Homo sapiens: one gene and its partners. The protein of the gene in region 3 interacts with the protein of the main gene of each other region in a pairwise test. Each region holds a gene or a part of one and is shown on either strand. Other genes may lie near its edges.

Region 1 (7,561 bases), on a different chromosome or scaffold from region 3:
ATGCCCCCAGTGGGAGAAGGTGAACCCTCATCCTCTTCAGGTTTCTGCAAAGGCCGCTGGGGAGGAGGATCACACTTATGGGCACCCGAGGGACCTTCTGGAAATTCCTCAGTGAAGAGAGCTTTGTGGTGGGGGAGCAAAGCCACCCCCCACTATAGATGACAACTTGGGGGGAGCTACTATGTGCTTGCTAAGGCCACGTGGCAGGGCCCTGGCATGGAGAGGAGCCTGACGCTAGACAGCTGCTGCTAGAGAAGAGAGGCCCCCTTGACGGCTGTGCCCACAGGGAGACTGGGCTACTGCTCAGCAAAGTCCTCTCGAGAGTGGCTGATGGATGAGATTTGATGCTGCCTGGCAGAGATGAGCAGGCAGGCAGTGTGCAGAAGGAAAGGGGGTGAGGTGGGAGCAGCCCCCCTTGAACTGCTCTGCTCACCTTCTTTCTCCATGCTTGTCCTTCCTCTCCAACACTTCTCCAGAGAGAAGTGGTAGGGGTCAGGGTGGGGAAGAGTTGGCCTTTAATGGACAGGGCAACGGTCCTAACCAGGGAAAAGCTGAGACCTGCGGCCTACCTGACTCATCCTGGCAACACGGCCCTCGGTGGCAGCTCAGACTCTACAGGTGATTGCAGAGCCAGTGAGGCTCACCTGCCGCCCCTCCTAAACTCTTTTCCCACCCTGTCCCATCCTTCCTGCTCCCCACCTCCCCCTGCCCACCATGTAGCCCATCCTCAGCCCCTCAAGGTCTGTTTCAGTCTGTGCTTTTCCTTCCTGTCTCCACATGGCAATCCAAGTCTCGGGGTGCATTTGCACAGTAACAGCCAGCCAGGCTAATCCTAAGGGATTTCCAGTTAGTGGCACGTGCGTGCTCTCCCACCCCTGGTCTGGAAACCAGGAGCAAAGTGCTCAGTTACTCATTTTCCGCCTTTGCAAGCAGCTCAAGTCCCTTGGGAAAGCACAGCTCCCAAAGGGTTCTGGGAATACCGGGGCTCCTGTAGGGCCAACGGGGCTTTCTGTGAGCAAGATTTGCCTAGAGAACACAGCAGCCAGGGTGTGAGAAGCCTAGCAAGTAGTTTCTTCCTCATTGGCCTGGGGCTCTGTGGCTCTCTCTCAGCAAATAGTTAGGCATGGCCTTAATTTATTTCCCTGCCAGAGTTCCTCCTGGAGGGGGGCCAAGCTAGTAGACAGGAAGGCGGGGACTGGCAATTTAGTAGAAATCCATGCATGTAATTGCGAGGACCAGAAGAACAGGAGCAAGTGCGCAGGGAGTCTGGGGGCTCTGGGCAGGCAAGGAGGAGAACAGGGTGTGGGGGAGCAACCCTTTCTTCTGCTTCAGGTGGGAAGAATTGAGGCCGGCCAGGCCCAACAACACAGCCTTGCAAGCTCCTAATAGAAGAAATGGCTTTCCTGGCTCCACAGGGTTCCTCAAGCAGGCAGGGGACCTTCTCAGGTCATAAGATGAGCCCCACGACACAGTTCTCATTTCATCTGGGCGTGAGTGGTTTCTGCCCCTCTCTGGGCCTTAGATGCCTCAGATTTCCCAAAGCAGCCTTCGTCTGAGAGCACTGTCCCGGGAGTCAGGCACGTGAGGCTGACTCTCTGCTCTCTCACCAGGTGTGGGAGCCACACCAGGTCACTCAATTTCTTAGAGTCCCATTGGCAAAACGGATAATAGAGTCTCCTTGAAGACTGATGGGGAGGATGGAGTGACCAAGGGATGCGAAGGGTTTCTAAGTAGTGCATGGTCCATAAATGCACTCAAGAAAGAAGAGCTGTCATCTTTATCCATTCCAAGCACAGCCCATGGCTGCTTTCCAAGCTCCTTAAAAACACGCTGCAGAAGTTCCTATCCTGCCAACGCCCTCAGGCAACAGGCGCCACAGCACCTCTGCTTTCCCAAGACTTTGTCCACGCTCTCCACGCTCCATCCCGAGCTTAGTGAGGGGCAGGACTGTGTCTACTGTGTCAGTGGGAAGCTGCTTTGGAGCATGTGCCCCTTGGTGAAAACCCTGTGGATAGGACGTGATCTCATCTTCTGGGATTCTCCAGCAATGACGGGGAGTTTGTGGAAACTTGACTTGGGAGAACCTGCTTGCAGGCATACGGCAGTGGCCAGCCCCCAACCTAGAGTCAACCCTCCTTCCAGATCTTCCCAGGAGGTCCCAGTCCTCAGAATTCCCTCCAAGCCCCGCCGGGAATAAAAACCAGGCAGTAACGGGTGTGCAGAAAACCTATACATCCAACCTAACTTGGCTGAAGAAGACACCCTCCCCCCCGCCGTCTGTGCTCCGGTGTCTCGGTGACTCAGGGTGCCCACCTTCACGGCTGACCTGCTCATTCCCGGGGGCCCCTGCGGCTGTGCCGTTCCCTCAGGTCACACTGGCTTGGGTCCTTAGAGCACCCTTGGGTCCAGGTGCCCTGGGCCACCTCCCATTAGTTAGGGACCGCATCCGTGGGGACAGAAACTTCCATCTCACTGAACCTATACACAGGAGCCAGGCTGGGCTTGGAGGTCACCAGCCGCCTGGGAGTGGACCCGGAGAGGCTGAGTGCGGCCCTCCCTCTCAGACGGCAGACCCCGAACCTCCACCCAGAATCCGAGCCCGGACACGGCCAGCAGGGAGCTAGGAGATGAAGTCCAGCCCTGGCTGCCCGGCTCCTCTGGGAGGGCAGCGAACCCGCGGGAGCGCATGAGCGGCCTCTCCCGGGGGGGCGGTAGGAGCGCGTCCCCTCCAGGGCGCTTTGGGATCGGGCTGCTCCGGGCCAGTGCTCGCGCTGGGGACCTGCGACGCCTCAGCCCCTGCCCAGACTGCGCCGCCCGCCGCGGCCACACCTCCCAGTCCCTGGGAAAGTCCCCGCCGCCGGCGCGAACCCACCTTCCGGGAGCCCAGGGGCCCTGCTGGGGACTCGCCGGTGTCCCCGCCGCCTCCTCCTGCGCGGGTCCGCGCTGCCCGGCCTCAGCTCAGGGCTCCCGCCTCGCCTCCCCGAGCTCCGGTGAATTCTCGGCGCTGCTCCTTTCGGAAAGGACTTTTTTTTTCCCCCTGCGTTGCGTCAGGGCGGTTGCCTGGCGACGGCCGAGCTCTCCGCCGCGAGCCTTTCACCGCGATCCCGGCCTCGCGTTCTCGCCCCGGGTCCGAGCGCGCCCCGGGTCCTAGCGCCCTGTCGGTTCACCGGCCCGGGCAGCCCCCGCGAGTGGAGAGGAACTACATGCCTTCGCCAAACCCCAGATGAAACCAAACCCAAACATCCATTTTCTCATTAAACCCGAAACCAAGGCAGTTTCCCCCAATTGTGGCAACGTGACTGCGCCACTGTCAGAAGTTTGTCCGCATGGAGGGCGCAGGGGGACCCCACGCCCAGGGCCTCACCCACCCCCAAACGGCAGGAGTTCATAGGACCCGCGGCCACGACTGCCCGCGAGCGCCTACCGTGGGCCACGCCCCCCAACGACCCAGCAGGGCAAGTGTAGGCATCTCTGGCTGCCAGATGAGGAAACTGAGGTGCAAAGACGCGAGCGTTTGCCCCACTAACCACAGGGTGTCTGTCCCGCCAGGGGCGCGGCATCGGCCACCTCTGGCTGTCGTTAGATTCTAAGACCCAGTCCCTGCTGCATCAGAGCCCAGAGCTGCAAACCCTAAGGCACAGGCAGGACAGCAGCCCGAGCTGCCCGGACCGCAGGTCTTCAGGACCAGTCCCAGCTTCTGACGAGGGGCCCAGGCCAGACACTGGAGGCCCCAAGGCTGGTTACTGGATGGGGGTCTCTTACCCCAGACCTCATCAAGCACCTTTCCTAGATGCCCGGGGCTGGAAGCGTCTTTCAAAGGGCTCCAGTCTGCCATTCTCACGATAGCCCTGGGCGTGCGCGCAGGCGCCGCCTACATGGCCAGACGCGAAGCTGAGTGGTGGGGCTGCAAAGTGACTGGCGCAGGCTCCAGGCAGGTGCGCGGCTGGTCGGGCCTTCTGTGGGGTCTTAGCCCCTGCAGGGGCCCGAGACACTCGTGCTGCCCTCTGGTGCCCGCGTCCTTCACTGCAACTCCGCATCCAGCCCTGACCTACTCCCTTCCTTTCTGACCTTCACTGGAAGGTCCTCTGAGGGACGTCGTCTAAGGAGACATCTTGCCAGTACAGACCTAGTCATGCTAATGAGGGAACGGTCCTAAGCTAGCGGGTGTATTAACAAGCATCTTTTGGAGAGTCACAGCCTTGATCCAGATCTTCTGATTCCAGCTCCTAAACATCACTCCTTCCTTCTTCCTGCCCGCTGCCACTGTCCCTACCCAAGCCACCAGCAGCTTGCCCTACCCAGTTCTGGGACCTGCCACCCGGGTCCAAGCGTGCACGCAGTCTCCATACTGATCTCCCTTTACCCTCTCTCAGCGCCTCCCAAGCCAGTTACTCCTCCACAAACAGGGGAAACTCTTAAGAATGGAAATCCAGTCTCAGCTGCTTCTGCTTAAAGGCCTTCAACGCCCCCAGTCCTCTGAGGATTAACAGCTAGCTTGGCTGCAGGGGCCTGGCTGGCCTCTGTCCGTCTCTAGGGCCTTGTCTTGCACAGACCCTGCTCCCCAGACAACAGACCCTCTTCCAGTCCCATTGTGCACCTGCTCCTCCCGACAGGCTGCTGCAGCTCTGCCTCCTAAGGGAACCCCAGGTTACAGGTGCTGGCAGCCCCCTGCCTTATGTCCTTCATGGACCAGTTATAATTCCAAGTTTACCTGTGAGGTTATTTGATTAGTATGTGTCTCCCTCTGAGGCAGTAGGCTCCGGAAGGGCATGAACCATGTTTGCAAGCAGGAGCCTCAATCTGGACTTGGGGATAAAGCATCCTTCTGGGTGCTGGCTGTTTCTGACCACAGCCCCGGTGCTGAGCCCTAGTTGGCTGCATTGCTCACTGGTGTGCCCATGGCCCTGGCACGTGGTGAATGCTCCAAGATCTTTTTGGATGGGCCATTCAGCCCCATCTGGAAATGCTTTGTCCCACCTCTACCTCCTGGCTCCCTGTTTGACCTATGGCTTCTATTTCTGGGAGTGCAGATGCTTTCTCATGGGGGAATTGTGGCATGCCTCAAATGGACAGGCAGCCTGTCCAAGGCAAGGGTGGTGTCTTGCCCTGTGGCTCCCATTCTGCCTGGCATTTGTCTGCGGGCAGGAGGGTAATCAGTGATGGGGACCAGGAGGAGAGTGGGCCAGAGGAAAGAGGAAGGGGAGGAGGAAGAGCAGTCTTGGTTGGAGTAGCCTCAACTCCAAAGTGAAATCATATGGAGTGGTCAAATAAATGAGTTAGCACAGAATGGTATGTAGCCATAGAAATAATATTCTCAAAAGCTATTTGATCATATAGAAAAATACTAACGATTTAACGCTAAGTAAATAAGACTGGGACACCAAATCCTGTGTACATTATGAAACTTCTCATTCCAATATCTAATTCATATGTATGCATGGAAAAAAGATTGGAAGAGTGTATGCAAATATTAGCTGTCGTTATCTCTGGGCTGCAGGATAATGGAGGATTTAAAATGTCTTCTGTAAGCCTGCATTCGTTTTCTACAATGAATCGTTTTGTAATGAGAAACATCAAGAAACACTACTCAAAAGGGAAGATGGCACTGTGTTGGTGTTTCTGATGGCACTTCCTTTTGTGTCAGGCACACTGAAACCCAGTGATGGTGGGAGGATCTGGGTGGGCCAGAGAAGGCAAGGCCACCTAGAGGTTCTCTCTTCCCTTTGATTCCTTACAGAGAAGTTTTCTTTCCGTTGGTGCATGATGCATGAGACATTGCCTCTTATAATCCTACAGGAAGCTGTGAAATAGATGAGTCAAGAAAAATGCCCAACCAGGCATGGTAGCTCACACCTGTAATCCCAGCAATTTGGGAGGCCGAGGCAGGGGGATTGCTTGAGCCCAGGAATTGGAGACCAGCCTGGGCAACATGGTGAGACCCCACTTCTACAAAAAAAAAATGAAGAAGAAGAAAGAAAACTCAGCTGGGCATGGTGGTACACACCTGAAGTCCCAGCTACTTGGGAGGCTGAGGTGGGACTGCTGGAACCCAGGAGTTGAAGGTTGCAGTCAGCCATGATTGCACCACCGCACTCCAGCCTGGGCAACAGAGCAAGACCCTGTCTCAAAAATAAATAAATAAATAAATAAATAAATAAATAAATAAATAAAAGATTTAAACTTAAAATATTCTTTCAGAATTTCTCCCAATTCGTTTATTCATCTGTTCAATAAATACGTATTAGTACCACTAAATACCAGACATTGTTCTAGGCTCTTGGGAAATGTTAGTGAACAAGTTAGATGAAGGACCTCGCCCTTGAGAACTGATAATCTAGCAGAGGAAAGCAGGCAGACGATGACCGACAAATACGCTAAGTAAATAAGCAATATTGTGAGTGATAGAAAAACAGAATTGTAGACTTGGATTGGAAGTAATGGCAGAGGAGGGGAAGAGTGTGCACGTTTTCAGGCAAGGTAGGCAGGGCTGGCCTCGCTAATAAGGTGGTTTTCTAGCAAAGATTTGAGGGAGACGATGGAGGGGGTCTTGTGGTGTCTTGGGGAAGGGTGTTCTAGGGAAAGGGTCAGTGCAGAGGCCCTGGGCCAACAAACGTGCCTGCCACAATCAGGGGCCAGCATGGATGCCTCGAGGCCAGAATGCAGCAGGCAGGGAGTAGAGCATGGGTGGGAGATGACATCAGAGACAGGGCAGGGCAGGTGCTGCGGCAGAGCCCTTGGGCCTGGCAGACCTCGTGAGGACTGGCCTTCCCCCGAGGGGAGCTCCAAATGCACAGCTGGAACCAGACTCTGCTCTCTTGTCACTCTCAGGGCACAAAGCCCTCTCTAAATCAGTCTCTCCTGATCCCTTTTGAGTCTATAAGCTACTTGAAGGCGATTCCTGGATTCTAGGGATACAAGAGAAGGAAGGATGAAATTTCTGTTGGGCTCTGTGGGACAGAGGACACTAAGGGTGGCGACATCCCTGCCCTGCTCCAGGCAGCAATGAAGACTCTCAGCCCAGGGCCAGAGTCCACCGGTCTCTGCTGTTTTCCTGTGAAGGGACTTGTCCATCCGTGGGCCCAGAGTTTCAAGAAGAAGCGGGAAGTGACTGTCTTAGGCATGTTCAGCTGCAATGGCTCCTCCCTGCTCTCATCTCTCAGAAGAGGCTGATTCAGGCTGAAGTTCAGAAGGACAATGAGGGCCAGCTTTCTGTCTTCTAGGGAACCTGTTAGTTCCATTTAGGGGCGGCTGGCTCTGTGCCACCCGGGGGCTAGACATGGGAGTGTGGCGCACGTGGCTTTTTGGTAGGAAGATAATTAACAGAGCAGTCACCACACAGAGCGTCCACCTTAGTGCTGGAGTAGGGAGGTGACAGATTCCACCTGAGCCTAGGTGAGGCGGAGGAGTGGGCTTCAGCTAGGAGAGGTGCCCACTCTGAGGCAGCAGAGGGAACTGCATCTGGAAGGGCATGTGCGGAGGCTTTGTGCAGAGCAGGAGGTTGCTCAGCGGCCGAGGTGAGGAGTGGCGGGCACAAGGGCACAGCTGCAGGGCTCGGCGCAAC
Region 2 (7,000 bases), on a different chromosome or scaffold from region 3:
GGACTCCCCTTGGGGTCCCTGGCTCCCTGAGCTCTTGGGCTGCCTGGGGCCTCCGCTGACACTCCAGTGCCGAGAAGGCTGCACTCCCAAGCCTGCTGTTCCCACGGTGTCACTGGCTGAGGGATGGGGTGAGGGGACGTTTCTCCGGTTCCTGTACCTCAGGGCCTAGAGGGAAAGGCTCAGCTGAGATCTGCTTCCCTCAGGAGGACTCCCAGAGTCCCAGGAGGCCCACAGGCTCGAGCACCTTCTGCCCACCCCCGACCTGCCAATACCCCCCGCTTCCAGCTGCACCACGCCTGCTGTTCCCTCAGCGGTTCCCTCTGCCCAGAATGCTGTTCTCAGGTATGTCCACACGACAAACTCTCCCCTCCAAGTCTTTGCTCCAATTTCACATCCTCTCTGAGGCCCACCCCAGCACCCCAGTTACTAAAACTCCAACCAGCCTGCCCAGAGCTCCTGAGCTCCTGACCCCTCCCCTGCTCTCCTTTCTTCCCAGAGCATTAGCGCCTCCTGATGGTCCAGCCGGGTCTAGGGCTGAGCTGCCCAGGGCGGAGCTAAGTAGGTGAGATGGGGTTGGCCTGTGACGTGCTTCAAAGACCTACTATGTTTTTTTGTTTTTTGTTTTTTGTTTTTGAGACAGTCTCACTCTGTCACCAACGCTGGAGTGCAATGGCGTGATCTTGGCTCACTGCACCCTCTGCCTCCCAGGTTCAAGCGATTCTCCTGCCTCAGCCCCCTGAGTAGGTGGGATTACAGGCATGGGACACCATGCCTGGCTAATTTTTGTAGTTTTAGTAGAGACGGGATTTCACCATTTTGGCTAGGCTGGTCTCTAACTTCTGGCCTCAAGTGATCTGCCTGCCTTGGCCTCCGAAACTGCCAAAGACTTACTATGAAAAAAATCACGTCTGGCTGGGTGGCTCACACCTATAATCCCAGCACTTTGGGAGGCTGAAGCGGGCGGATCACCTGAGGTCAGGAGTTCGAGACCAGCCTGACCAACATGGTGAAACCCCGTCTCTACTAAAAAAAATAATAATAATTATACAAAATTAGCCTGGCGTGGTGGCCCATGCCTGTAATCCCAGCTACTTGGGAGGCTGAGCCAGGAGAATCGTTTGAACCTGGGAGGAGGAGGTTGCAGTGAGCCAAAGAGTGAAATTCCATCTCAAAAAAAAAAAAAAAACATCACGTCTAATAGCTCATTCATGATTTTTACACTGGCTACATGCTGAAATGGTAATAGCGTAGGCATATTGAGTTAAATGTTATTAAAATCCATTGTACCTGTCTCTTTTCACTTTTTCTGGTAAGCCTACTGGAAAAGTTAAAATTATCATGTGGTTCACACCATATTTCTAGTGGACAGGGCTGTTGTAGATAATAATTATTTTTAGGCAAATTGTTTACTATCTGCCTCCTCACACCAGAACGTTCCCTGCTGTGTCCCCTGCCAGCACGTCACCTGGCACTTGGTAAAGGATCATTGTCGAATGAAAGAATGGATGAATGAGGTTCTGCCAGGGGCCCCAGGCAGGACAAAGAATACTACTCCTTCCACAGTCCCCCACTCACCCTCTCGGTTGGCATCTGTTTCGTGTTCCTGCAGGGTCTCAGCGGAGTTCTCCCATCCCACACCAGGTCCTGGGAGGCACAAGGCAACCACTGGGCCCAGGGCCAGTGCGGAAGTGGACAGAGCTTGCAGGAGACACAGGGGACAAGAAGGAAGCCTCCTCCCCCAAGGAGCTGGTGGGTCCACAAAGAGTTGGGGGGCTGGCTGGTACAGTGACCCTTGTCCCTCACCTTTGCTGTGGGAGACGGGCGCCCCCAGGGGGCCTGGATGGCGCTGTCGGAATCGTTGCCTAGGGGTGTCCCCAGGGCTGAATGACTCAGAGCTTCGCCCCACCGGGAACCTTGAGCTGAGTTTCCGCCGCTGCCCGCCTGCCAAGGTCTCATCCCGCAGGCAGAGGGAGCTCTGGGCCCGGCGCATGGGTGCCGGGGAAGGGGACCCTGCAAGAGGTACATGCAGGGAGGGGGTGAGAGGAGGGGACGGGAGCTGAGGCTCCTGTAGGGAGGAGGTCAGAGAATGGGGGGAGGCTGAGGCTCACGCAGGGAGGGGGTCAGACAAGGGGAGGGGGTGCTGAGGCTCCTGCAGGAAGGAGGTCAGAGAAGGGAAGTGGGGGCTGAGGCTCATGCACGGAGAGGGCCAGAGGAGGGGAGAGGGAGCTGAGGCTCATGCAGGGAGGGGGTCAGACGAGGGGAGCGGGGGGGCTGAGGCTCCTGCAGGGAGGAGGTCAGAGAAGGGAAGTGGGGGCTGAGGCTCATGCAGGGAGGGGGTCAGAGGAGGGGAGGAGGCTGAGGCTCATGCAGGGAGAGGGTCAGAGGAGGGGGGGAGGCTGAGGCTTATGCAGGGAGGGGGTCAGAGGAAGGGAACGGGGACTGAGTCTCATGCAGGGAGGGGGTCAGAAGAGGGGGCTGAGGTTCATGCAGGGGAGGGGTCAGAGGGGGGGGGCGGAGGCTCATGCAGGGAGGGGGTCAGAGGAACAGGGCCCTGGATGGAGTAGAGGGGCCAGTGGGTGAAGCTGCCCAGGGCCAGGGAGGGGAGGTGCAGAGGTGGGGGAGAAGCCAGGCAAATGAGTGGGGCAGCAGGACACTGGCCCTGTGCTGGCCTTCATACTAACTCACTGCATGACCTTGGGCAAAAGCTTCCCCTCCCGGGGCCTCAGTCTCCTCATCTGCAGTCTAGGAACAATGACCTCTCCCTAGAGTCCACTGCACCTCCCAGATCCTGGGCTCCGCTGCGGATGGGGCAGGCTGGGTCGGGGACAGCACAGGCAGGAGGGAGGTGTGGGCCAAGGGTGACCCTGTAGGACCCAGGGAAAAGAGCCCCTGGTGGCATCAGGGCAGGGGGGGCAGGCCTCAGGGAAGGCCAATGGGGTCACGCATGCAGGCCAGGCAGTGAGGCAGGTGCCAAGGTGGGGGACAGAGGATGTGGGGCAGGGACCATCCTGGCCACCTGACCCCCAGACCCACCTGTCCCATCTGCCTCCCTGCCCTCAGGAAGCTCCGTCTCCGGGGGGCCCCCCAGGCTCTCGGTGCTGCCAGCCCCATCGGCCCCCAGGCGCAGCCCCCCAGGGGGGCCCCCCTCCCGCCGGGGCCGCATCAGCCTCTTCACCTTGTCTGCCAGCCAGCTGCCCTTCCTGGGGGCAAGAGGGCACAAGAGGGGGTCAGGACAGGGAGGAGGGAGGGAGCAAAGGGTGTCCTGGGGATGTCAAAGGCCAGGTTGACCTTCATGGGGCCTGGACCTGAGCTGGGCCTGGGGTCAGAGGCCAGGGCAGGGGCAGAGGTTAGCAGGATGTCCAGCCTGAGGGAGGTGACAGGGCTGCTCACTTGGTCCGGGGCAGGGGCACAGGCTCCAGCACGCGGTATTGGTCCATGATCTTCTCCACGAGCTTCTGCTTCTCGCGGCGCAGGGCATTAAGCTGGTCCCTGGCAGGAGTGAGAAGGGAGAGGTGGGTGTGAGGCCCAGGGAGGCCGAGGCAGTAGCAAGGCACAAGCTGCAGCGAGGACGCACTGGTCCCGTGCCGCAGATTGGACTGACCTGGAAGGTCAGCTCCAACCCTGTCCCTAGGCCCTCACTAAGGGCTCTCCCCAGGAACGCCCAAAGGGGATGCAGGCCCCACCCCGCTCCCAGGCGGCCCACTCACAGGTACTCCCGCTGTTCGCGGTGCAGGTGGTCCCGACTCTCCAGGCTGCGCTCCAGGAGCTCCCTGTTCTCCCGGCTCAGGGCCTGAACTTCAGCCAGCAGCTGCCGGTTCTCCTCTTCCTGGGCACTTCGCAGCTGTGTCAATAGCTGGCAGGGGGGCACCATGGCTCGGAGGGTGGGACCCAGCTCAGGACCACCTGGGTCTAGGCTTTCTGCCCCACCACACGCCCATACCCCCACCGGCCCTCCAGCCACACCTCACACTGCGTGGTCAGCCGGCAGGCGCTCAGGTCCAGCTGCTGGTTGGACTCGCGCAGCTGCTGGCTCTGCATCTCCAGCTGTGCCCGCTCCAGCTCCAGCCGCGCCAGCCGGCCCCGTAGCTCCCCGCGTTCACCCTGCAGCTCACCCCGCTCCCGAGACAACTCTGCCAGCAGCATCTGAGCCCTTGGGAGGCAAGGAGAGCTGCTCTCCAAGGGACCTGGGTCCCCAGTCCGAGTGCTGGCCAGAGAAGTTATGCCGGGGAGGGGAGGCCAGACAGGACCCCACACCCCCAACCCACTTTCAGGATGGGGCCACTGAGAGCTGCTAGAGGCTGTGGCAGGGGCGGCACCTGTCGTGCTCGCTCTGAAGCCTCCGCAGCTCCTCCTCCAGGCCCCGCTGCCGATGCCCATCTTGCATCAGGCGTTCACGCTCTGCCAGCAGGGCCACCTCCTGTGCCTCCACGCTGGCCCGCTGGGCCTGCAGCTGCTCGTGCCTGGGATGGACAAGGGGCTAAGAGGGCTGTGTGAACCTATGGCCACCACAAGCAGCTGGCTGGACTATCTGGACCCGGGGCGGGGGGGTCTGTCACCTCCTAAGCCTAGGTCCCCCAGAGGAAGCCATTGGGCAGAATGCCATGCCAGGTGCCCACCACTCCCAATAGGTGAGCCCCACGGGGAGCCCAACCCAGAAGTGTGGGGAGCACAGCTACCCCAGAGGGCACAGCAGTGGCCGGGGCATCACAGAGCGGAGGTGGAGGTGCTTCCTGATGGGGAGTCAGACCTGCTGAGGGGAGTCTTCTCTGGCAGATAGGGGGTGCCAGGGGAGGAGCTGGGCATTTGGTGATGCTCACCGGCCCTGCAGCTCCCGGTGGGCCAGCTCCAGTGCCCGCATGTTGGCCTTGAGGTCTCGGTGCCGCACCAGCAGTCCCTCTAGCTCGGCCTCCTGCCGCCGCTGCAGCTGTGCCAGGGCCTTGTGGTCCCGAAGCAGGGCCTGCTGCTGCCCGCGGGTCTCCTCCTGGGACTGCCGTGCCGCCCGCACCTCCTCCTCCAGCACCTCCAGCTTCCGGTGCAGCTCCTGGCCCTGAATCTCCAGCACAGACTTCTCGGCCTAGGATGGAGGAGGGAAGCAGGGGCTGCTGGGGAGGAACCCCTGGCTGGAAATCGAGTGAGAGGCGGGGGGCTAAGGGCAGACGGTAGGGCCCAAGACAATGAGAGAGTTGTGGAGGAGGCAAAGGGCTGGGGGCACAGCAGGCAGTACAAGCCCCAGCCAGAGGCTGATGGTGAGCAGGGGAGAGGCGGCAGAGGCTGGCTGGGCCAGGCTGTCCGGAAGGGGCACAGGGCAGAATGGGACTAATGGCGCCCTGTGGAGGGGAGGGCTGGGACAGTGAGAGCGCAGGGCGACATGGGTGTAGATGTGGGGGCTGGCGGCAGGTAGGAGGAGATAGTGGCAGGGAGGATGGTGCAAAATGGTGGCTGGGGTCAGAGGACAAGGATAAATGAGACTGGGGAAGAGGTGGGGCAGCTGGCTGGGAGCTGGGATAGAAAAAGGCCACAGGATGATCCAAAAGGAGCAGGAGGGGGCAGTACATGGGCAGGGATGGGCACCCGGGCCACCACCCACCTGCAGGCGGCTGCTGTGCTCCTGCGCCCGCTGGCTCTGCAGCAGCAGCTCCTGGGCACGGCCCTGCAGGCTCCCCAGCTGCCCCTCCAGGTGCTGCAGCTGCCCCTGCAAAGCTGCCTTCTCTGCCACCAGCATCGCATTCTGCCCAGAAGTGGGGGTTAGCAATAGCCAGGTGGCGGGGGCACCCCCTAGTGCCTACCACAGGCCCACACTCACACTGCATGGGGCACCCCCACCCCCGGGCCCACTGTGAGTCCACACTCACACTGCACGGGATACCCCCCAGCCCAGGGTCCACCGTGGACCCACACTCACACTGCACGGGGCACCTCCCCAGGGCCCACTGTGGGCCCACACTCACACTGCGCTCCACCTCAATAAGCCGCACATTCTGGGTCTCCACCAGCTGAGGCTCCGCACGCTTTTTGGGCCCCAGCCCCGCGGGGCCCTGGCGCAGCTGCAAGGAGAGTCCCTGGGAGGTCATGCGGGACAGCCGCAGTGCCTTGGGGATGCCTCAAGGACCTGCGCTTATGGACCTGCCCTGCCAGCAGCATTTAGCCTAGTCCACCCCGCCCCAATCCCATGCCTTCCCTTGGATCCCACAAGTCCCTGCTCCTGGTTCCTGAAGCTCCACCGTCACCACCCTGCCCTTCTCAACTTCTGTCTCTCTGCGGCAGAGCCTTCTGCTCATAACACTTCTCCATCCCACTACTCCTCTAAGACTATTTGGTTTTTTGTTTTTGTTTTGAGACAGAGTCTCACTCTGCCACCCAGCCAGGAGTGCAGAGGTGTGATCTGGGCTCACTGCAACCTCTGCCTCCCGGGTTCAAGCAATTCTCCTGCCTTAGCCTCCCGAGTAGCTGGGATTACAGATGTGGGCCACCACGCCTGGCTAATTTTTAGGGTTTTTTTTGTTTTTTTGGGTTTTTTTGAGACGGAGTCACACTCTGTCACCCGGGCTGGAGTGCAGTGGTGTGATCTCGGCTCACTGCAACCTCCTCCTCCCAGGTTCAAGCAATTCCCCTGCCTCGGCCTCCTGAGTAGCTGGGACTACAGGCGCCCACTACCATGCCCAGCTAACAGCTAATTTTTGTTGTTGTTGTTGTATTTTTAGTAGAGATGGGGTTTCACGGTGTTCATCAGGATGCTCTCGATCTCCTGACCTCATGATCCATCTGCCTCGGCCTCCCAAAGTGCTGGGATTACAGGCGTGAGCCACCACGCCCGGCCTGATTTTTGTATTTTTAGTAGAGATGGGGTTTCACCATATTGGTCATGCTGGTCTCGAACTCCTGACCTCAGGTGATCCACCTGCCTTGGCCTCCCAAAGTGCTGGGATTACAGGCATGAGCTGCTGTGTGGGGCCTTCTCTAAGCCTCTGTTTCAACCCCACCTTCTCCACAAAACCTTCCC
Region 3 (7,084 bases):
ATTGCATGGGTCACTATTTGCAGAGACGTGAAATACTCGCTATTTAAATGTGAAGGCTGGAAGTAGTCCTTCCCATACCGCTGTGGTGGCTCCTTGATGTTGTCTGGGACTGATGTTCTTTATTTGACCACAGAATGTTTTCCTCATTGTTGGCTAAAGAGTTTCTTCTCTTTAAACTTAAGAACTAGTTGATAAATTTTAGATTCCTATTGTGAAGGGTAGTACCACACTTTAAAATTGTTGACAGTTTATTTTCTTTGTCTTTTAGTTCATCTTGTTGATATCTGGAACATGATTGAAGCCTTCCGAGACAATGGCCTTAATACACTGGACCATACCACCGAGATCAGTGTGTCCCGCCTCGAAACTGTCATCTCCTCCATCTACTATCAGTTGAACAAGCGCCTTCCTTCTACTCACCAAATTAGTGTGGAACAATCTATCAGCCTCCTCCTCAACTTTATGATTGCTGCATATGACAGGCTAGTAGTACCTTACCTTACACGCTTACTTCATTTTAAGAACACCTGTCTCTGAATCATTCTTCTTCCATACTGCCGTGCTAAGTTGCCTTGCTAAGCTGGCAACTTAGAATCATGATTAAAAGGGAAATTATTGGCTGGGCACGGTAGCTCACAGCTGTAGTCCCAGCACTTTGGGAGGCCAAGGAGGGCAAATCACAAGGTCAGGAGATGGAGACCATCCCGGCTAACACGGTGAAACCCCGTCTCTACTAAAAATACAAAAAATTAGCCGGGCGTGGTGGTGGGCGCCTGTAGTCTCAGCTACTTAGGAGGCTGAGGCAGGAGAATTGCTTGAACCCAGGAGGCAGAGGTTGCAGTGAGCAGAGATTGCACCACTGCACTCCAGCCTGGGCGACAGAGCGAGACATTGTCTTAAAAAAAAAAAAAAAAAAGGAAAATTATTCGGTGTAAGCCCCTCTAGAAACTGGTTCACAGTGACTTACTGTCCTAGAGTATGTCATATATTAAACTCTGGAATATTGTGGAGAATCACATTTGAGATGTATTGTTTGGGAAAATTATAGATACCTTAATACAGCTGTCCTCCAGCTCATGAAAAACACTAAGTTTTGAATTTGATTATGGGGCTTTCTATTTGACTTCTAAGTCTCCTCTTTCTTTTTTCTTCTATGCCTAGTTTGTTCAGAAGGCTAATCTTTACTCTGTAACATCAAATATTGGACTATAGTAACTGATTTTCTCTCTTTTTTTTTTGAGATGGAGTTTCTCTCTTGTTGCCCAGGCTGGAGTGCAATGGTGTGCAAGCTCGGCTCACCACTACCTCCACCCCCCGGGTTCAAGCGATTCTCCTGCCTCAGCCTTCCAAGTAGCTGGGATTACAGACATGCGCCACCACGCCCAGCTAATTTTGTATTTTTAGTAGAGACAGGGTTTCTCCATGTTGGTCAGGCTGGTCTCAAACTCCCGACCTCAGGTGATCCGCCCACCTTGGCTTCCCAAACTGCTGGGATTACAGGTGTGAGCCACCACACCTGGCCAAACAGATTTTCTCTTTATGTCTAGGAACCTATTTTAAATTTTTTCATTGCAGAACATAGTTTAGTAGATCTTGAAACAAAAGAAGAAAACTATTTAAATGTACTCCAATTAAAACGGAAATGATTTGCTGCACTTATATTCGTAGAGAATTGAGTTGGTATTGTAAAGAATGAAACAACAAAATTGTAAAGCACAGATTTATGATTGTGGAAGTACAGAGGTTAAATGGTGATGTTCTGTGAACCAAGAGTTCCAGTTTCTGCTATACTCTTGGCCATCTGATTTGAATGGATTGTCTCTGCTTCATTTTTTGCTGTCTGTAGACCTTCTTTGAGTTCATACATTTGTAAAATGCTATTAGTTATATCTTATAATAGGGAGGAGTCTGTGAATTAGTGGTAACACTATGGAAATGTCAAAGCCAAGTCATAATTTAAGCACTCACTAAATTCACACCATTTTTATAAGCCGTTATCAGATTAGACATTGTATCCGTTTAATAGAAAATTATTAAAGAAATTTACTTATTTTTTTGAGATGGGGTCTTGCTGTGTTTCCCAGGCTGGTCTAACTACTGGGCTCAAACAGTCTTCCCTCCCCAGCCTCTCTAGTAGCTGGCATTACAGGTGTGTACCACTGTGCCCGGCAGAAATCTGAATTTTAAAAATAAGAGTGTGTAAGTGTCATAAGTCCCAGAATTCTAATGCCATTTTTTAGTAATTTTAGTTAGTGACTCCATAGGTTAATTTTTTCCTGCTCAGGAACTGTCTTTTTGTTTCAAAACCCTTAGTAAAAATTGTTATTCTGTAATAAGTAAGCAGCACCTTATCATGACACTGACTCACTCAGTAAACCAATTCATGGGTCACACAACACAAATTAACTCAAGAAACAATATTTTTTAAAGTCAGAAATTAAAACCATCTTACTGTCTAAAAATGGTCAAGCAGAGATTAAAATCTTGGATTCCATAATCATGTCAAGTAAGTTAAATACTATGGCGCTTTAGTCTACTGGGCTGCTCTAACAAAATGCCATGAACTGGACTCTCTATAAACAACACAGATTTATTTCTTACAATTCTGGAGGCTGGGAAGTTCAAGATCAAGGTAGATTCTGTGTGTGGGGAGGGCCTCCTTTCTGGCTCCTAGACGGCACCTTTTTGTGGTATCCTCACATGACAAAGGGGCAAAGGAGTTCTCGGGAACCTCTTTTATAAGGGCACTAATCCCGTTCATGAGGACCCCCTCGTGACCTAATTATCTTCAGAAGGTCCCACCTTCTAATACCGTACCTTGGGGGTTAGGATTTCAACATGTGAATTTTGGGGAACACAGGCATTCAGGTTATAGCATATGGCTAAAGAAGGGAGAGGAAGGAAGAGGGCAGAGATGGCAAAAGGGAGAATGGGAGGACCAAACTCAGAAGCAGAAGGTACAAGGATATCCTGGGCCATATTCCGAGAAAGCTAGACACATACAGAGAGACGAGAATAAGTGGACAGTGAATCAGTTGAAGGCAGATGTGTAGAAACACACACCGAAAATAACTAGCAAAAAAAAAAAAAAAAAAAAAAAATGAGTGAGTTAAGAAGAGTAAGGGGTATAGTATGTTATTAGTGAGTTGGGTAATTTTTACTTTGATGTGTTTAAAACATAGACCATGGTATCAGAATAAATGATCACATCTTTACTAACTTTGATACCTTTATATAATAGAGCTTATTTGGCTATCTGGAAGCTTAAAATTGACCTTCTTGTGTTGGAAAAAAAGAAAGAATCTGGTTATCAGAATGTTAATTTTGAAAACCAGGGCATTTTGTCGTTAAATACTTCAAATGTTAGTCTTTTTATTGATTGGCCGCTTTATTACTTAGGCTGGAGAGTTCCTTTTATACATAGACAACCTAGTTATTTATTTTAATTGAGGCTTCCAGCCTTTGTATTTCATAATTCCATAAGGTTAAAGTTTGAAAGCAAAAATTATTTAATCTTCTCTCACCTCCAAATTTATAGTCCCTGTGTTTGGCCAGATGATTTCTGATCATTATAATAAGAGAGTATAAGACCCTACAACAACGGTCAGGAACAAATAGGATCTAAGACTTTTCCTTAAGTATTTTCTTAAGACCTAATTTTTTTTAATACTGAGAGTTCTGAATATGTTATATTTTGATAATTAAAAACATTGAAAAGCACAGAGACCAATATTCACAAAACACCTGGGTGTAGAATCTTAGTGAAAGCCACAAGGAGTTGTGAAAACACTGATAGCTGCATTTTTTTCCTCTCAGTTTCTCCGGTACAATGTTATTGGTAGTCATACAGTCTGGTGCAAAGGTACAACAAAGGTGCTTTAACCAATATAATAACGATATCCAAATTCCCAGCATGAGATAGAGGAGGTCTTCCTTACTCTTCTATAGCTGAGCCAGTTTCACACTTTAAGGTTTGTTACTTAAAAATCCCCTTTCTATTTCCAACCTTTGTGTTAGTCCAGTGTCTTTAGCTGTAAAAAGCCTACCCACATGGCCTTTTCATAACAACATGTGTATAGGCTGACAAACTGAGGGGTCCAGAGGCAGGCCAGCCCCTCATCTTGGTTGCATCAGAGCTCTGGCTTTATTTCTTTGCGCGGCTTTGCCCCCTTCTTGTATCAGCTCCATCCTTAGGCTGACTTCACAAAATCCCTGTGAGCAGCTTCTACTAAATGCCTCCTCTTTGAAGTTGAGGTTAAGGAAGAGTTGGCTTCTTTGAACACCGAGCAGAAGTACCCATCTTTTAGACACCCATGACACAGCCTCAGGAGGTCCTGACAATGTGTGCCCAAGGTGGTCAGAGCACAGCTTGCTTTTATACATTTTAGGAAGACATGAGACATCAATCAGATACGCTTAAGATTTACATTGGTTTGATCTGGAAGGGTGGGACAACTTGAAGAGGGACAGGGAGCTTCCAGGTCATAGGTAGATTTAAACATATTCTGATTGGCAGTTGGTTGAAAGAGTTATGATAAAGAGTTGTGGAGAGCTAGGTTTTATCACACAGATGAAGCCTGCAAATAGTAGGCTCTAGAGAGAATAGACTGTAGATGTTTCTTCTCAGACTTAAGGTCTGTGTTGATGTTAACACTGGAGGGTATCATGAGGCATGTCCATCCCCAGCTTCCCATCATGGCCTTAACCAGTCTTTCTGGTTAAATTTCAGAGTGCCCTGGCCCAGGAGGGAGTCCACTCAGATGGTTGCAGGGGGCCTTTGAATTTTATTTTTGGTTTACACTTACAATCTAATATCTAGATTTCCTGTGGTTCTTTTTGTACTGTTTGTTGTTTCTGGTTTTCATTAATGATGTTTTATTTCCTATTTGCTTTGTTATTTTTTATTATAGGCTGAACATTATATAGCAAAATTATTTTTATTATATACCAAACATTATATTGCAGAATTATTTGCAGGGATAATTTGAGGCCTAGGATGATGTTTTCTTCAAGAAAGGATGTGTGTTTGCTTCTTCCAGGTGCCTGGAGACCTTAACAATCCAGGATCACGTCAATTCAGTTTCTTAATCAGTACATGTGAGGACCTGTTTACTTCTGGACACGATTACCTTTAGGTGAAGCCTTTGGGCTCTGAGCCCAAACTAATAGGAGAGTAGGGTAAGCAGGACCACGTGTCCTGCCAAGGGACCCCTTCTGCCTTGGCAAGTCCAAGCCTCCATGTCTTTCTCCTTGTCCCCAGTACCATCAAAAAGTTACTCTATACTTCAGCAATTTTGCTTCCCCCTCTGGAATCAAATCACTTACATGGAAAAAGTGATTTCATCCATTGCACTCACCTCCCTGGACATCCAGCCTCTCCTGCATTTGGTAACTTCAGTTGTTAGTTCTCAACAATTTATATTCAAGGAGATTTTTTAAAACTTTCCCCATCTTTTCTTTTTTGCTCAGAGGAAGAGTTGATCAGAATCACCTAGGGTGCTATTACCAGAAGCTCATTATTTCTTCAAATATTTCCTCTGTTTTTGTTTTCTCGTTTTCTGATTGTTGGCATTTCTACTTCTTTCCTCTTTATCTATTAGTGTTCCTCACATATGGTTTAATTTCTTTAACTTTGTTTCCTTTTGGAAGAGTTTATTGATCTGCCTTTCTGCTCATTAATTTGTTCTTCCTCTGGAGCCATCCTACTGTTTATTCCATCTGTTATTTCTTTAGCTATTATATTTTCTATATGTAATATATCTGATTTTTCTTTTTTGGGATTTGTGGTTCTTGTTTCGTATTGTCTTTTTAAACATGTTTATTCTTAGTTTTAAATTCTTGGTCCATTTGTTCTAGGACTTATGCTTCCAAACCTGGTGTATGTTGTTCTGTTTTGTTTTGTTTTTCTAAGTAGTTGTATCCCTGTGTCTAAGGACTAGCCAAGGAGTGGATGTTTGCTGAGAATGTGGGCAGAACTTGGACATGTGGGCTAGAGTGTTCACATGCATGCATAGTCCTTTCAAGCATGGGATGTGCTGGAGGTGGGAAGAAAAGGGGATCAGGTTCTTCCCACGTAGGAGTATGGGGTGCCTTACAGTTCTAAATTTGAACATGACATTTCTGGCCATTATAAAGGTATGTTAGTCAAGGTACAAAGATGGAAATAAATACATATATTTATTTATTTTTCTGTCGTCCAGGCTCTAGTGCAGTGGCACAATCTTGGCTCACTGCAACCTCCACCTCCTGGATTCAAGCGATTCTCATGCCTCATCCTCCTATTTGGGACTACAGGCATACGCCACCACGCCTGGCTAATTTTTATATGTTCAGTAGAGACGGGGTTTTGCCATGTTGGCTAGGCTGGTCTCAAACTCCTGGCCTCAAGTGATCCACCCGACTTGGCCTCCCAAAGTGCTGGGATTGAATACAGCCATAAGCCACTGCACCCGGCCAGATTGCTCTTATACTTTATTTCTGACTGTTGAATCTTATTTTTTCCTCTGATATATTTCATCCATTTATGTTTTACAAATGAGTCTGTGGCCTTTACCAAAAGTGTTGGTTCAGAAATAGAATGAAATTTCACCTTAAAAATGGAATAAACTGGTAAAAAAAAAAAATGATGTATCTAATGAAACTAGTTTGGACAAAGTCTGTAAAATACATCTAAATCTTAAAAAATACAAAATACGGTATTGAACACATCATTTAAAGGCCTAGGGTTATTGTTTACCATCTACAATAACACTCAGTAGAAAACATTCTTGCTAATTTGAACAATCGAAAGATTCCTTTGGTGTAAAGATACTTATATAATTTATAATAGAGTTATATGAAAAAATTCCTGTGTAGTTTGCAAATGTGGCTAACAACCATTTAAAAATGTTGGTTTAGGCTGGGTGCAGTGGCTCATGCCTGTAATCCCAGCACTTTGGGAGGCTGAGACAGGCGGATCACCTGAGGTCGGGAGTTCAAGACCAGCCTGACTAACATGGAGAAACCCCATCTCTACTAAAAAAAAAAAAAAAAAAAAAAAAAAATTAGCCAGGCATGGTGGTGGTGCATGCCTGTAATCCTAGGG

Evidence for each region.
Region 1: the proteins of DTNB (region 3) and FAM167A interact in binary tests that used the Homo sapiens proteins (3 or more experiments, as listed by UniProt).
Region 2: the proteins of DTNB (region 3) and CCDC88B interact in binary tests that used the Homo sapiens proteins (3 or more experiments, as listed by UniProt).

What each region holds. Positions count from the first base shown.
Region 1 is NC_000008.11:11,463,754-11,471,314, forward strand, and holds the start of FAM167A (protein FAM167A), read right to left. Parts: upstream 3,001-7,561; 5' UTR 2,873-3,000; intron 1-2,872.
Region 2 is NC_000011.10:64,350,204-64,357,203, reverse strand, and holds part of CCDC88B (coiled-coil domain-containing protein 88B), read right to left. Parts: intron 6,045-7,000; coding exon 5,949-6,044; intron 5,729-5,948; coding exon 5,588-5,728; intron 5,075-5,587; coding exon 4,818-5,074; intron 4,461-4,817; coding exon 4,317-4,460; intron 4,151-4,316; coding exon 3,964-4,150; intron 3,854-3,963; coding exon 3,708-3,853; intron 3,490-3,707; coding exon 3,391-3,489; intron 3,201-3,390; coding exon 3,034-3,200; intron 2,011-3,033; coding exon 1,804-2,010; intron 1,645-1,803; coding exon 1,576-1,644; intron 166-1,575; coding exon 110-165; 3' UTR 1-109. UniProt on the Homo sapiens protein: Acts as a positive regulator of T-cell maturation and inflammatory function.
Region 3 is NC_000002.12:25,621,569-25,628,652, reverse strand, and holds part of DTNB (dystrobrevin beta), read left to right. Parts: intron 1-268; coding exon 269-482; intron 483-7,084.